4 linked regions of the Homo sapiens genome follow. The protein of the gene in region 4 purifies or fractionates together with the protein of the main gene of each other region. This does not show direct contact. Each region holds a gene or a part of one and is shown on either strand. Other genes may lie near its edges.

Evidence for each region.
Region 1: the proteins of TTC1 (region 4) and DNM3 purify together in Homo sapiens (affinity purification with a luminescence readout; one large-scale study listed by IntAct). This does not show direct contact.
Region 2: the proteins of TTC1 (region 4) and UFM1 fractionate together in Homo sapiens (co-fractionation; one large-scale study listed by BioGRID). This does not show direct contact.
Region 3: the proteins of TTC1 (region 4) and GFPT1 fractionate together in Homo sapiens (co-fractionation; one large-scale study listed by BioGRID). This does not show direct contact.

What each region holds. Positions count from the first base shown.
Region 1 is NC_000001.11:171,847,998-171,851,497, reverse strand, and holds part of DNM3 (dynamin-3), read right to left. Parts: intron 1-3,500. UniProt on the Homo sapiens protein: Microtubule-associated force-producing protein involved in producing microtubule bundles and able to bind and hydrolyze GTP. Most probably involved in vesicular trafficking processes, in particular endocytosis.
Region 2 is NC_000013.11:38,356,351-38,359,850, reverse strand, and holds part of UFM1 (ubiquitin-fold modifier 1), read right to left. Parts: intron 1,759-3,500; coding exon 1,719-1,758; intron 551-1,718; coding exon 518-550; intron 1-517. UniProt on the Homo sapiens protein: Ubiquitin-like modifier which can be covalently attached via an isopeptide bond to lysine residues of substrate proteins as a monomer or a lysine-linked polymer.
Region 3 is NC_000002.12:69,321,228-69,324,727, forward strand, and holds part of GFPT1 (glutamine--fructose-6-phosphate aminotransferase [isomerizing] 1), read right to left. Parts: 3' UTR 1-3,500.
Region 4 is NC_000005.10:160,047,139-160,050,638, reverse strand, and holds part of TTC1 (tetratricopeptide repeat protein 1), read right to left. Parts: intron 1,126-3,500; coding exon 977-1,125; intron 1-976.

The sequences.
Region 1 (3,500 bases), on a different chromosome or scaffold from region 4:
AGGTTGCAGTGAGCTGAGATCATGCCACTCACTGCACTTCAGCCGGGACGACAGAGCGAGACTCTGTCTCAAAAAACAACAACCGTTCTAATCCAAGCCCACTCAACTATTCTCAACCAATTTATTGATGACAAAGGTATGTTTCAGCTTAGATAAATGGCTTGTACAGAGTCAAGTAGCTGATTCATTCAGTTAGCTCCTGCCATATGCCGGCACTGCACTACGGAAAATGATAAAGGAGACACAGCTCCTGGCTTCGTGGAAGCTGCAAATAGTTGAGCAGACAGAGGAGGCAACCAACTGTTCGGTAGATTCCTGTGCAGTGAAATATTAACAAGGGCCACCAAGGAGGGGCCTCTAAATCAGACAGATAGAGCTGAGAAGACCAGCAGATGACAGCAGAGGCCAGACTAAACCCAGCTCTCACTGTTCTTGGCATGCTACCTTGCTTACCTGTGGCACACTTTGAACAAATATGCAGGGACCACCTGCCACAGGGAGCAGGAGAGAACCAAAGCCACCCCAGACTAACTCATTCACAAATACTCCTAATTCTCACAGTGGTTGAACCTTACCAGTCTTTTCTCTTCGTATGTCCCTACAATCTGGTGGACACTCACAAAAGCATTGCTTCCTCCTTCTCATCTCCCCACTTACTCTGCAAGCAAGGAACTCATGATCCTTCTGCCACTTCCCTTCTTAACTTACTCTGAGGAAAAAAAAAAAAAAACAAAGCCCTAAGAGAATATGTAACTTTCAAAGTACATAATTCAAATCAAGTACCCACACATACACATTTTACATGATATGTTTTTAGGATTAAATAAACAGGCTAAAGTTTCTTAAGTTGAATTTACAAGGACTTCAGTATGCAGGTCGTTCTATCGGTATTTAGATGAGAATGCAGAAATCTCACCACACAATTGTTGCTGTCCTGGTAGTAGGACTCAGAACCATGAATGCTAGGATCTATAAAAATAATTGCAAGCCTTTGCCCCTCTTTTCAAAATATGAAGAGAATGGGTCTTAGTTTTATTAACCAGAAAACATAAACAGACACACATATACAGGGTTCTAAACCTCCACTAGATAAGAAACCCAAAGCTATTCTTTTCAAAGCTTCTGAGGTATATCTAGTAACTTAAAAATAATGTAATTCCAAACAGAACCAGCTGACTAGCTCAGAGCTAAAACTGATGGTTAACAAGTTATGGGAATGTCAATCAAATCAGAATATGAATCTTTCCACTGGAAAAAAGAGTGATTTGGTATTATTTCAACATCTACTACAAAAATGTTGGTACTTCTTTTAAGATCTAATTACACCTTACCTCCTGAACACTTGGTTGTAGATGGTTTCCTTGGGCTCAGACCATACTCTTGCTAAGTAGTCCTGCTTCGCCAACTAGACTTCCTCAATTGTTTTTCCCCCTTCTACACCATCTTTGCCTGCAATTTCATCTAACATTTCCAAAAGAAAAGGAATATGCTAAGAATGGTTTACTTTATATCACAGCATCAAATATCTTCCTTAAAATATATTCTCTAGGAGAAAACTAAAAATAATGTCAGAAAAATTCATTTTAATTCTATTATCTGTTATTAAGTCTATTTTGTTCATTAATTTCTAGTACTCACCATGTGACCCCAGTATGTCACCCAACTTTTTTCCAGCTTAATCTTTTTTATTTCTAAATTAAAGTAAACAAAACATGCTTTTGCTATCTTCTCACAGAAATTCGAAGGATTAATGAAATGATAAAAACTGCTTTGGAACTCTTGGAAGGGAAGAGTATACAAACTGGGTTCACTTTGTATATATTGGTTTAAAAAAAAAAGAACACATTGTGATAATGCATTTAACGAATGTGGGCAATGCTTTCTTTAAAGAAGGCTCAAATATATTCTATTAGCCTTATCTACAAGTAAGTATTTTGATGCAACTGTAATTTTCCAACATTCACGAAAAGAATTTGCAAATACGCATTACCATCTGCCTCAACTTACTTTTGTTTTTAAAACACTCAAAAAATGTCCAGTCTAAATAAAAGATTTAAATTAAGAGCAATCAGTTATTGAATGCATACTATGGACCAGGCACTTGATACCATCTTACTCAGAACTCACACACAGATTAAAAGGTGAAGTCTGCAATCCCTATTTTGCAGATGAAGGAACTGAGGCCAAGTGAGGCTAGATTCCGTAATGAGGAGCCATGCTACCAGTGAGAGTCAGAGGCAGGACTCAAGAGCTGCCAGCAAAGCCTGCACTCCATCACCATGCTGTGATGACTCCTCTTCAAATACTCACTTTTGAGAAATCTAAAAAAATAAGCACCATAAACAAGTTTAGTCACCCATCAAATTACTTATCAAATAGATTAGTCTTTCAATTCCAAGCCACTGGAAGGATAAACAATGAGGTCCTTCAGGATACCTAGCTACTGCTATCATGTATATATATGCTATTCATGGGTATATCATGACCTTGAAGCAGTGGGAAATAAAAATGACACACTGTCACAAAGAAGCACTGAGGTACATTTTAAACCCTTGGAAATAGAGGACTTGCAGCAGGGATATTAGAGAAAAACAAGATCTAAAGCAATCCTGTATCATTCATATAATTCCGGAATTAAATGTATCATCATTTTCCTCAACAACTGCTCTGTTTTTGTTATCAATTAACACTAAAGACAATGCAATATTAATGCTTGTTGAAAAATTGTTAAAATAATCTCTATAACATTAATGGACCTCAATGTCACTCAATGCACTCTAAGAATGCAAACACACACACAAAAAGAATAGAAAACAGGCAAACTGAAGGATGCAGATTTGCTACACAAATACATCTTTATTTTACCTAAAAGTTCACCCACTTGTTTAAATAATAACATTTCCATTTAGATTATTTATTTACATACAACTTTTCAGAAGCTCGTGTTGGTTTAAGCAAGGCCTATTGATGACCATCTCAGGCATATCTTTCTAGCTAATGCCCACCTGGTGGATAAATATTAATAATGTGTAAAAACATCCAATATCTTATTTAGTCTTTTCCTGGGCCCATCTGTTCCCTAAAAGTCACGCTTTACTCACGAGTATACTATTTCAGTCAAATTAACTTGCCTAAGTCTGAGAAAAATTCTGCTCCCTGTCTCCACTATTCTGTATGGGAAAAAAAAGGTAATAAAATGCAATGTCACTGCTGGTCAACTATCAAGAAGAGTAATGAAAGAGAGTATCACGGAAGAGAAAAAGGCTGGCCCAATGCAAAGGGATGGGAAAAGGAGGAGGCAGGGTGAGGGTTGGAGGGAGGTGCTCTAAAACAATAACAGGAGGAAGAGAAGATGATGAACTGGCACAGGCCTCCCAGTTCCTAACATTAAGTTCCAAACCTAGCTCTGATTTCTTCTGACCTTGGGCAAATCTCTGGTTTCTCTGTATCCTACTGTGCTCCAGGAAGTTAGAGAAAATCAAGCCAGAGAAAAGCTTCTT
Region 2 (3,500 bases), on a different chromosome or scaffold from region 4:
TATGAGACTACTTTTACCCTGTCTCCTGGTCAGGACACCAATATATCACCTGTATAAATTTAACAGTTTGAAGATCTGAATGTAGACTCAGCCCCTTGAAATGTAAATGACTATATTTAAAAAAAATAATAGCACTTAATGAATGCTTTCTATAAATAATCCAAGCTATGAAGCACTTTACAGTCACTATCTCACAACTACCTTAAGAGGTAGGTCAAAAAATACTCCAATTAGAAAGCAATCTTATCTACAGACTTTTTGTTATATATAATAAATACTCTTAATGCTTAAGCCACTATTAGGTTTTCTGTTACTTGTAGCCAAAAACATCTACAATCAATATACACAATGAAACAACTTATTACTCAGACACACAGGTAAAGACTGGTATATAATCCCTAAAAAACAGCTCCATTATGTTAAAATACTGTCAAGTGTAATTAGAATAGCTTAACTATTCAGTGTCAATTGACATATATAACCCCACCCACTCCTCTATGAGTTTTCAAATACTCACCAGCAGTCTGTGCAGGATTTATTCCTATTCCATCTAGAAAATAAGTTGTAAAATCACATACATTATTTCTAAAGCTAAAATGGTTAAATAGTAGCAAGGAAAGAGATTTGCCAAAATAGTGCTGTTGTGTATATAGACATAAGCCAAACACTTTAAATCCAAGAACACGAGTGACAATCTTTCAGGTAAATTATCTGTTGAAATCTACTATTATTCTGCATTCATACACATTGCTGGGTTAGACAAAAACGTCTGTCAATGCAATGATCCTGGTAAGTTCTATGGAATATAGGTTATTAATTCTATTTTGCCATATAGAATTAAAAATAATGTTTGTCCTTTCTTCCAAAAAACTAAAAAGCCCCTTAGGTATGCCATGAATCATCTTCGTATTGTTCTAGGTCATAATATCTTAAGGCTGGGAGAGCTCACAAAGTCATTTAGTTCAACACGTTACTAAGTTATGACCTAAAACTTTCCAGGTAGTAAGCCAGCTTTTTTCCAACAGAGAAACACTTCAATGTGACAGAATGCAGAATATTTTAGAGTGAGAAATTCTACCTTATCTAAGTTACATCACGCACATTAAGCCCATCTCCTGTCCAAACTGCACTTGGGCAACGCATCAGCACTCATCAATACTGCATTGTATACTTGAAACACAGTTAAGCCCTCCCTGCAATCTTTACTCCTCATCTTATTATTTCACTATTTTCTCACAAGACTAATTCCATCATCATTGATTATCAGTGTTCCAAGATATTAAGATTTTTAATTATATACCTAAAACGGAATAAAATTCTCATTATTGCAAGCCTACAAGAAACAATTTTCTATCAGGAAAGGTATAGCAAAGATACATTCCTGCTTAACTTTCTATATTCTAAAGCATTTACCAAACAACTTTACTTAATAAAAAAAAAAACTTGCTAAATAAAGTTATTTTCAGTTATAATCTGGCATGAACTGGTAAGGACAAAAGATATTATAAAGTGCTATACTATATCAAAAGCTATATACAAAGAAATGAAAGGAGCTAATTATTAACAATAACCCTGACTTAGTGTTTACCAGTAAGTATATCATTTATGTTGATATACATATACTTGGGGCTTTTTGTATTTAATTTTAATTAATTTGGTTCCTTTTACACCATTTCTATAAATTTGAGGTAATACATAATTTTATAGTGAATTCTTACCATTGGTAATAATTGCACTTGTTGCAGCAGGAACTTTAAACTAAATAGAAGGAAAAAAAAATATATATATATATACACACACACACACACACACAAAACTATAAGATAATTAGCAAGAATGGGGTACAAATACCAATTCTATAATTCTAAAGTAGGATTAATCTTTTAGAATAAGTGAAACTATCAAGGAAAGTACAGCTGACCCTTGAATGACATATGCAGATTTTCTTCTGCCTCCGCTACTCCTGAGACAGCAAGACCAACCCTTCCTCTTCCTTCTCCTCAGTATATTCAACACAAGACAAGGATTAAGACCTTTCCCATGGTCCACTTCCACTTAATGAATAGTAAATATACTTTCTGTTATGATTTTCTTAGTATTTTTTCTTTAACGTTATTGTAAGAATACAGTATATAATACACATAACAAAATACATATTAATCGCCTGTCTGTGTTATCAGTAAGGCTTCCAGTCAACAGTAGGCTATTAGTAAAGTTTTTGAGAAATAAAAAAGTTTTATGCAGATTTTCAACTGCACAGGGGGTTGGAACCCCTAACTCCCACGTTATTCAAGGGTCAACTGGACTATATCATATGCTTTATCTGTAAAAAAAAAACCCTGTATTATAAACAGTGCTTTTGATTGTATTTAGGACACCATTAATTATAAAAGTGTACCTTATATTATACATTACAAAAATGAAAAACCACTGTCAATTTATGCCCAGATCAATGTTTACTCTTTAGGACTTATCCATCAATTTTGTCATTTATAATTCTCTTGAACAGCAAAAAGTACATGCAAAATAAACTGATGAGATTATTCCTAAAATTTCTCCATAGAAATTGCAAGATCTGAACAGATGCTCTCTGTGTTTAATGGGAGGTGCCTACCGAAGATTTTCAGGTAACAACCAAGGCTTGTATTCCTTACATTCCTCTGTAATGATTTGCTGATTTAAAGCTCAAGGATTGCAATAGTCCAATTATGTCATTAGGAAATAATAATTAAGTGTAGATGATGTTACCTAGACAATTAAGTGAAAGCCATTTGGCCAACAGTGATAGCAAGCCTCCCCTGATCTATTTCAGAGATGTTTAAAAAGATGTGTTTTTTAAATCAATGAAATGTGGTATGGAATTTATTGGTAGCTAAAAGGTAGATTCCATCTCTTAAAGAGACCAGCAGTTGCCAAAGTGTGTTTATGTCTTCACAGTTTATGCATTTATCCAACAAATTTAAGCATGTTTGTGCTATGGACTAACTTTATAGATATTATAGTTGAGTTTTGTGATCAAGTTTGGAAAACACATTTAACTAGTGGTCTTCTCAAAAGCCTTTAATATACTCCTAACAGAAATGAAGTGTTTCTCGTATTTTTTGACCAGTAATCCCTGTTCTTCATGAAGTTTTTTTTTTTTTTTTTTTGGTGGTACTAATTTGTGTGTGGTTCTAGTTGTCTGGGAAACACTACTCTAGGCATCTATAATCATTACATATACATAGTTGAGAAAAACTAAAAGCTTATTTTAAATTAGAAATTGAAGAATCAACTTTTAAAATAAGGCCTTAAACATACCTGAGAACAATTATTTGTTATAGTATTATGTACAAATTAATAATAAACACATTTTAATCTCAATGTGGTACACTCTTGTGTCCTTTTAAAGATTTTAAAATTTTTAAAGAATTTCAAAGTGTACTTAAGTAAACTTAAAAATGCATCACAAATATTTTGCACAGGCTGTAATCTCAATAAGAATTTGATCAAACACTCAA
Region 3 (3,500 bases), on a different chromosome or scaffold from region 4:
TAAAAGATGTGAGAAAGTATCTGTGGAGTTTGGTATCAGAAAGGGCAGAGCCTTTGTTTTATCTAACGATTCTTTCCCAAACTGGGAAGTTCGGGTAGAGACAGTGGCTTTTGGTAATATTTAGGCAGTGATTTCTTATTCTTAAAATCAACAGTAATGAATAAAGTTTTGACATCAGAAATGTTTACAACTAAAGTAGACATTGATTACATTCTTAGTACAATACAATTTCTAACATAACTACAAATGTGTATACACTTCAAATATTAGCAAATTGCTTCAAAATGAAATTCTAAGCAAGTTTTTGGTAATTTATTCACAGTTCAGGCTTACTCACTGGACTTAACGACATGAGGAAGAAATGACCAACTGGCTCAGTAAACTAAACATTCATTTCAAAAATCACAAAACTGAAACAAAGCAAAGATGATCCTAAAATTTCCACTTCTCAAGAAGTGTAATTTAAACAAATACCAAAAGCTTTATTTAAGCAAAAACACATTCAACCACAGAACATTCAGAAAGCTAACAGGATCATTTCTACATTCATTCTGCAAACAGTGTAGTAAGAAAGGTAATTTGAGAATTTCCAAAGATGTTCTCGCTAGCCATTATTTATGGTAATTACATAACATTTTGATGTCAAGTTATTACAGACTTAAAAGTTAATATAGCATAATTTTACAATCGTACTTTCACTATGATTTTTATTTTAACCCTGGATATTATTGGTTTGAAGCTAATATTATCAGTCCTATTGGCTGTCACTGTCACAGATCTGAAGATATGTTTAAATTCATCAAGCTAGGAAGATATCAAAATATTAACAATCTTCAAGTATAGTGAGAAAAAAACTGATTTAAGTGTTAGCATTTCTAAACTTGAGACTCTAACAGTAAAAATAAAGTAATCTGAAACCTGTTTCCATGGGTAAAACACTCTGCCTGGTATTCTTGTACACAAAATTTACTAAATATGTGAATATCATAAAATGAAAATATCACTCCCTTCAATTTCTTTGGCCTTCACAAATTCAATGTGACTATGATCCTTTTCAATAATACTTTCAATGACATTGTGCTTCTTTAGAAAAATCACTTAAGTTGTAGCATACAATAGTTAACATTAGTTCTTTTATTGCTATGGTATATGCTAATTTTTTTAAAAGGGGAAAAAAAAACCCAGAGAACTTATTAAAATGTTTGTTAAAGCAAACATTTCAGTTGGTTTCCTTTCTTTGAAGAATAATAGAAATAAATGTCAGAGGAGTATTACTAAGGAGCCAAAACAAACAAACAAACAAAAAAACAAAAAACTCCTTTATTACTCCCATCCTCAGAACTAACTCAAGACAAGAGATCTGTATTCAAAAAGATAAAACAATCTCATCTCAGTAACTACCTCCTATGAAACCTAAGAGAGAAAACCTGTAATAGCTCTCTTAACCAACAGCCCCATCTGCACATCACCAAGCACCAGTTCCCTTTGGGTAGCAGTAATGCTTGTTTTTCATCTTTGCATATTAAGGACTGTTGTTAACAGATTTATGGGTCATTTGTAGCTTACTTTGCAAATACCTTTCACTTCTTATGAAACACAATATGCCCCCAAACATGGACCATTATTCAAGTAGACAAAATCACTCACTGACAGCACTTTAACAACCCGCCTCCACTTCATCTTCCCATTCTCTCACCCTATGCCTTCCAATGAACCTAGTCTTTGCTAGTGATGAGTCCATCTGGGGACAAATACTGCTTTAAAGATGATGTAATTTTCAATGCCAACCACAGTGACTTTCCCATAATAGGTATTAATAAACACTTGTTGACATAGTTATAATAAGCTAAAAATAGTTAACATTAATTTTTCTCTTTATCTTTTATTCTTATGGCACAGAATTTATTTTAAAAGACTGAAAAACTGATTCCAATGTAATAATCACTTACTGGGCCACACGCTAGATGACAGACATGCCTCCCTGCCTAAAAAGGGCTCAAAGGAACTCTCAGTTATACATGAGTGAATTAAAACTTTAAATGTACTACAAGAAAGAACTTTTTATATGAAGGATTCTTTATGTAGAGTATCTTTTTTGAAAAATCAGATTTTCTTATCCTATATTACACTGGTTTTAATTGGGCATGCTCACTTTAGTGGTGTGCCTCATTACAATGTCTCTTTTGTGTTAAGAATTAACTTACAAAAGCATTTAAAAATCACTACATCAAATGGGATAGAGAGTAAGAAGACAGGAGAGAGAGGAGAAACCATGTTTTTTGTTTTGAGTCAGGAGGGTCTCACTCTGTCACTCAAGCTGAAGCACAGTGGCACAATCACAGCTCACTGCAGCCTCAACCTCCCAGGCTCAAGCGATCCTACTACTTAAGCCTCCCAAGTTGCTGAGACTACAGGCACAAGCCACCATGCCCAGCCCATTTAAAAAAAAAATTTTTTTTTTTTTTTTTTGAGAGAGTCTTGCTCTGTCGCCAGGCTGGAGTGTAGTGGCGTGATCTCGCCTCACTGCAACCTCCGCCTCCTGGGTTCAAGCGATTCTCCTGCCTCAGCCTCCCAAGTAGTTGGGACTACAGGCGCACGCCACCACTCCCAGCTAATTTTTGTATTTTTAGTAAAGACGGGGTTTCACCATGTTGGCCAGGATGGTCTCGATCTCTTGACCTCATGATCAACCTGCCTCGGCCTCCCAAAGTGCTGGGATTACAGGTGTGAGCCACTGCGTCCGGCCAAAAAAATTTTTGTAAAGACCAGGTCTCACCATGTTGCCCAGGCTGTTCTCCAACTCTTGAGCTCAAGCAATACTCCCACCTCAGACTCCCAAAGTGGAGGCTGGTATTACAGGCTGAGCCACTGCACCCGGCAGAGAATCCATGTTTGTTTGGAAAATATCACTTCTTTGTTCTTGATTTTGGTTTTTGATATTCAGTTTAGAACTTACCCTAGCTTTCAGTATATTTGTGTGTGTGTGTGTACACATGTGCTTTATAGAAAGACACACACAGAGGGAGACAGAGATTATGCAGACTAATGACTGACTTCACATATTAGTTTTAACTTAGAATGCTGAATCATACTTTAAACTATAAGAAATGCTACAAACCCACACAAATTGTGTTTGTAAAACGTTAATATACAAAACATAAGAAATGACACTATACACACGCTAGCTGACTTACACAAAATAATCTTAGAAACAATTAAAGTAGATTAATATAGCTATAATAGCCATATATTATATATAATGTAAATAGTGACCCTATTTTATTCTTAAAAAGATCAGGTTTCTAGTCACCATGTATGAAAGTCCTTCCAAATTACCTCAAAATATAACAAATCTTTCTCTAACCCTAAGACACAAGCAGAATTCTATGCTTCTCTGGCAACAACAATAACTATTAGAAAATCTTAACCTCACCCAGAAGTTAAAACAAGAAAAGAAAGAAAAGAAAGGAAAAAACAGCTTACTTAAATAATTGTGCTAA
Region 4 (3,500 bases):
AAAAAAAAAAAGTTTTGTTTGGCTCTGTTTCCAGTTCTTAATAGAAAGTCTACACTAAAGGAGGGCATCAATACAAATTTAACAAATAAATATATACAGAAAAAAGTTTGAAAGGATACATATCAGATGTTTACAGTGCTATATTTGTATTTTTAACTTTTTTTTAAATTCATTTGTATTTTTTGTTTTTTTAAGACAGAGTCTCACACTGTCGCCCAGACTGGAGTGCAGTGGCGCAATCTCAGCTCACTGCAACCTCCACCTCCTGGGTTCAAGCGATTCTCCTGCCTCAGCCTCTCGAGTAGCTGGGATTACAGGCATGTGCCACCACACCCAGCTAATTTTGTATTTTTAGTAGAGACAGGGTTTCTCCATGTTGGTCAGGCTGGTCTCGAACTCCCGACCTCAGGTGATCCGCCCTCCTCGGCCTCCCAAAGTGCTGGGAGTACAGGCGTGAGCCACTGCACCCAGCCTGTTGGTTTGTTTTTAAGATACAAAGTCTTACTCTGTTGCCCATGATGGAATGCAGTGATGTAGTCACAGCTCACTGCAGCCTCCAACTCCTGGGCTCAATGATCCTCTCTGTTGCCCAGGCTGCAGTGTAGTGGCATGATCTCAGCTCACTGCAACCTCTGCCTTCTGGGTTCAAGCAATTCTCCTGCCTCCCGAGTAGCTAGGATTACAGATGTGTACGACCACACCCGGCTAATTTTTTGTATTTTTAGAAGAGATGGGGTTTTGTTGTGTTGGCCAGGCTGGTCTCGAGCTCCTGGCCTCAAGTGATCTCTCCTCCTTGGCCTCCTAAAGTGCTGGGATTACAGGCAAGAGCCACTGCGCCTGGCCTCCCATATATCTTGATAAGCTCCTCAAAAGCACAGAAATGGAATTTAATTGTGTCTGAAAGGATTATTTAGGACTCACTGGGTAGCAACACAAAGAATAGAAGGAAAAATATTTTTAAAATTTTAGGTTTTACCATACAAGCTTCTCTTGCTTGATGTATTGATGGATCTTTTTCTAATATAGATTTATAGTCTTCCAGGGCTTCATCTAGCTTGTCCGTCTTCTCATACAACTCTGCTCTCCTCAATATTGCCCTGATATAGCTGGGGTTTAATTGAATTGCTGTAAAAAGAGAAGAAATAATTTTTATCACAAAGAAAAATGGCCTACATATCTTTGGCTATATCAGATTCCTTCATCAATCATCCTCCAAGGATACGAAAGGAAGAGTCATTTGCCAAGTGTATACCTGATGCTGGAAAACTTTTTCTATAAAGAGCAAGATAGTAAAGATTGTAGGCTTTGTGGGTCAGACAGACCATCTGTGTCGCAGCTCCTCAATGATACTATTGTAGCACGAGAGCAGGCACAGATAATATGTAAACAAAAAAGGATAGGTGTGTTCCAATAAACTATTTATGGACACTAAAATTTAAGTTCACATAATTTTCACATTATCATGAAATATTTTGCTTTCCAATGATTTAAAACTGTAAAAACCATTCTTAGCTTTTAGGCTATCAAAAACAGGTGGCAGGCTGGATTTGGCTTGTGGCTGTAGTTTGCCATATCCTGGTCTATACTCCAAGTCCTGGTTTTTGCCTACTTGTCATTTACCCAGTCCAGGACAGGCCAGAACAGAGTTCAAGTGCGCAGTGAAAGAGTGAGAGAGAATTTTTTTTTTTTAGACGGAGTCTCGCTCTGTCACCCAGGCTGGAGTGCAGTGGTGTGATCTTGGCTCACTACAACCACCTCCTCCCAGGTTCAAGCGATTCTCCTACCTCAGCCTCCCACGTAGCTGGGATTACAGGCATGCGCCACCATGCCCGGCTAATTTTTGTATTTTTAGTAGAGATGGGGTTTCATTATGTTGGCCAGGCTAGGTGAGAGAGAATTTGAAGATACAAATTAAAGAGTTAAGGGAAACCAATCTGGTGGCAGACTATCATTCTCTTTTTTCTAGGTCTTGAGTACTAAGATTATATTTCTAGTTAAATCCTCACTGTTCCTTCAACCCTCAAACTACTGCTCCAGCACTATGAGGTGGTTGATGCATAATATCTTTTCCTTTATCCAGCATCAGCTGCCCTTCTAATAATCCTTTGCTATGTTTTGGTTCAACATACTGCATTTCTTCTAATTTCTTCCAAGTTGTTTCTTTTTCTATTAGAAAGCAGTGCTGGCCGGGTGTGGTGGCTCAGGCCCATAATCCCAGCACTTTGGGAGGCCGAGGCAGGCAGGTCAATTGGGGTCAGGACTTTGAGACCGTCAGCCTAGCCAACATGGCGAAACCCCATCACTACTAAAAATACAAAAATTAGCTGGGCGTGGCAGTGTGGGTCTATAATCCCAGCTATTTGGGTGGTTTAGGCATAAGAATCACTTGAACCCAGGAGGCGGAGGTTGCGTGCAGTGAGTGGCGATTGCATCACTGTACTCCAGCCCGGGCAACAGAGAGATAATACTCTGTCCCAAAAAAAAAAAAAAAAAAAAAAAAAAAAAAAAAAAAGCAATGTCTTGGCTCTAGAACTTTTTTCTTTTCTCATAATCTATCCTTAATTTTTAAATTCATGCTTTCTGTGAACATTTATTTAGTACTTAATATATACGTCCAATGTAGTATGTCTCTGGGCTATAGTGGGAAACAAGACAGACACAGTCCTTGTTCTCATGAAGCCTTATGCTATTCTAGTAGGCAAGAACAGACAGGTATATAATTTCAATAGCCATAGTACTATAATGAAAAATAAAACAAGGTCATGGAAATACAAGTGAAGCGAGAAATGAGGTAACTTCAGAAAGTGGTCTCAGAATATGAAGAGGGACTATGTGAGAGAGGCCAGCCATGTGAAAGGCTAAGGAGGAGCGTGCCAGGAAGAGGGACCAACAAGAATAACTCTGGCATGTGAGTTATCAGGCTGGGGATCAGAGGCTGAAATGTAGGGCCATGGAGGACCTTCCTGGCCAGGGAAAGGAGTTTGGACTTTTTCCTCAGTGTGATGAGAAGCCACTGGAAAGTTTTCAAGCAAGCTTCAGACATACTCTGATTTACATTTTTGAAGGACTGCTTTGGCTGTAGTGTTGGCGGGTGGGGCAAGACTGAAAGCTGTGAGATCAGCTGGAAAGCTAATGCAGTGGTCCAGATGAGAGAAGATGTTGGCTTGGTCTAAGCTGGAAGTAGTAGAGATGGAAAACAGCAGCCGGATTACATTAAATATGTCTTTAAATTTGAGCCCATGGAACTTGCTAATTAATCAATTAGCCATGTGACACGAAAGAACAATCAGGGATGACTCCAAAGGTTTAACTTAAGCAAGGGGACAGATGGTAATGTCATTTATTAGAATGGAAAAAACTAACTGCAAGTTTTGTGTGTGTGTGGGGGCTGGGCACGTTAAATCTGAGGTGCCTACCAGACATCCAAGAAGAAAGAACTTTGCAGTGGGATACAGGACACTAGACTACAGGGTAGAAGTCAGAGTTGAAGACAGAAACTC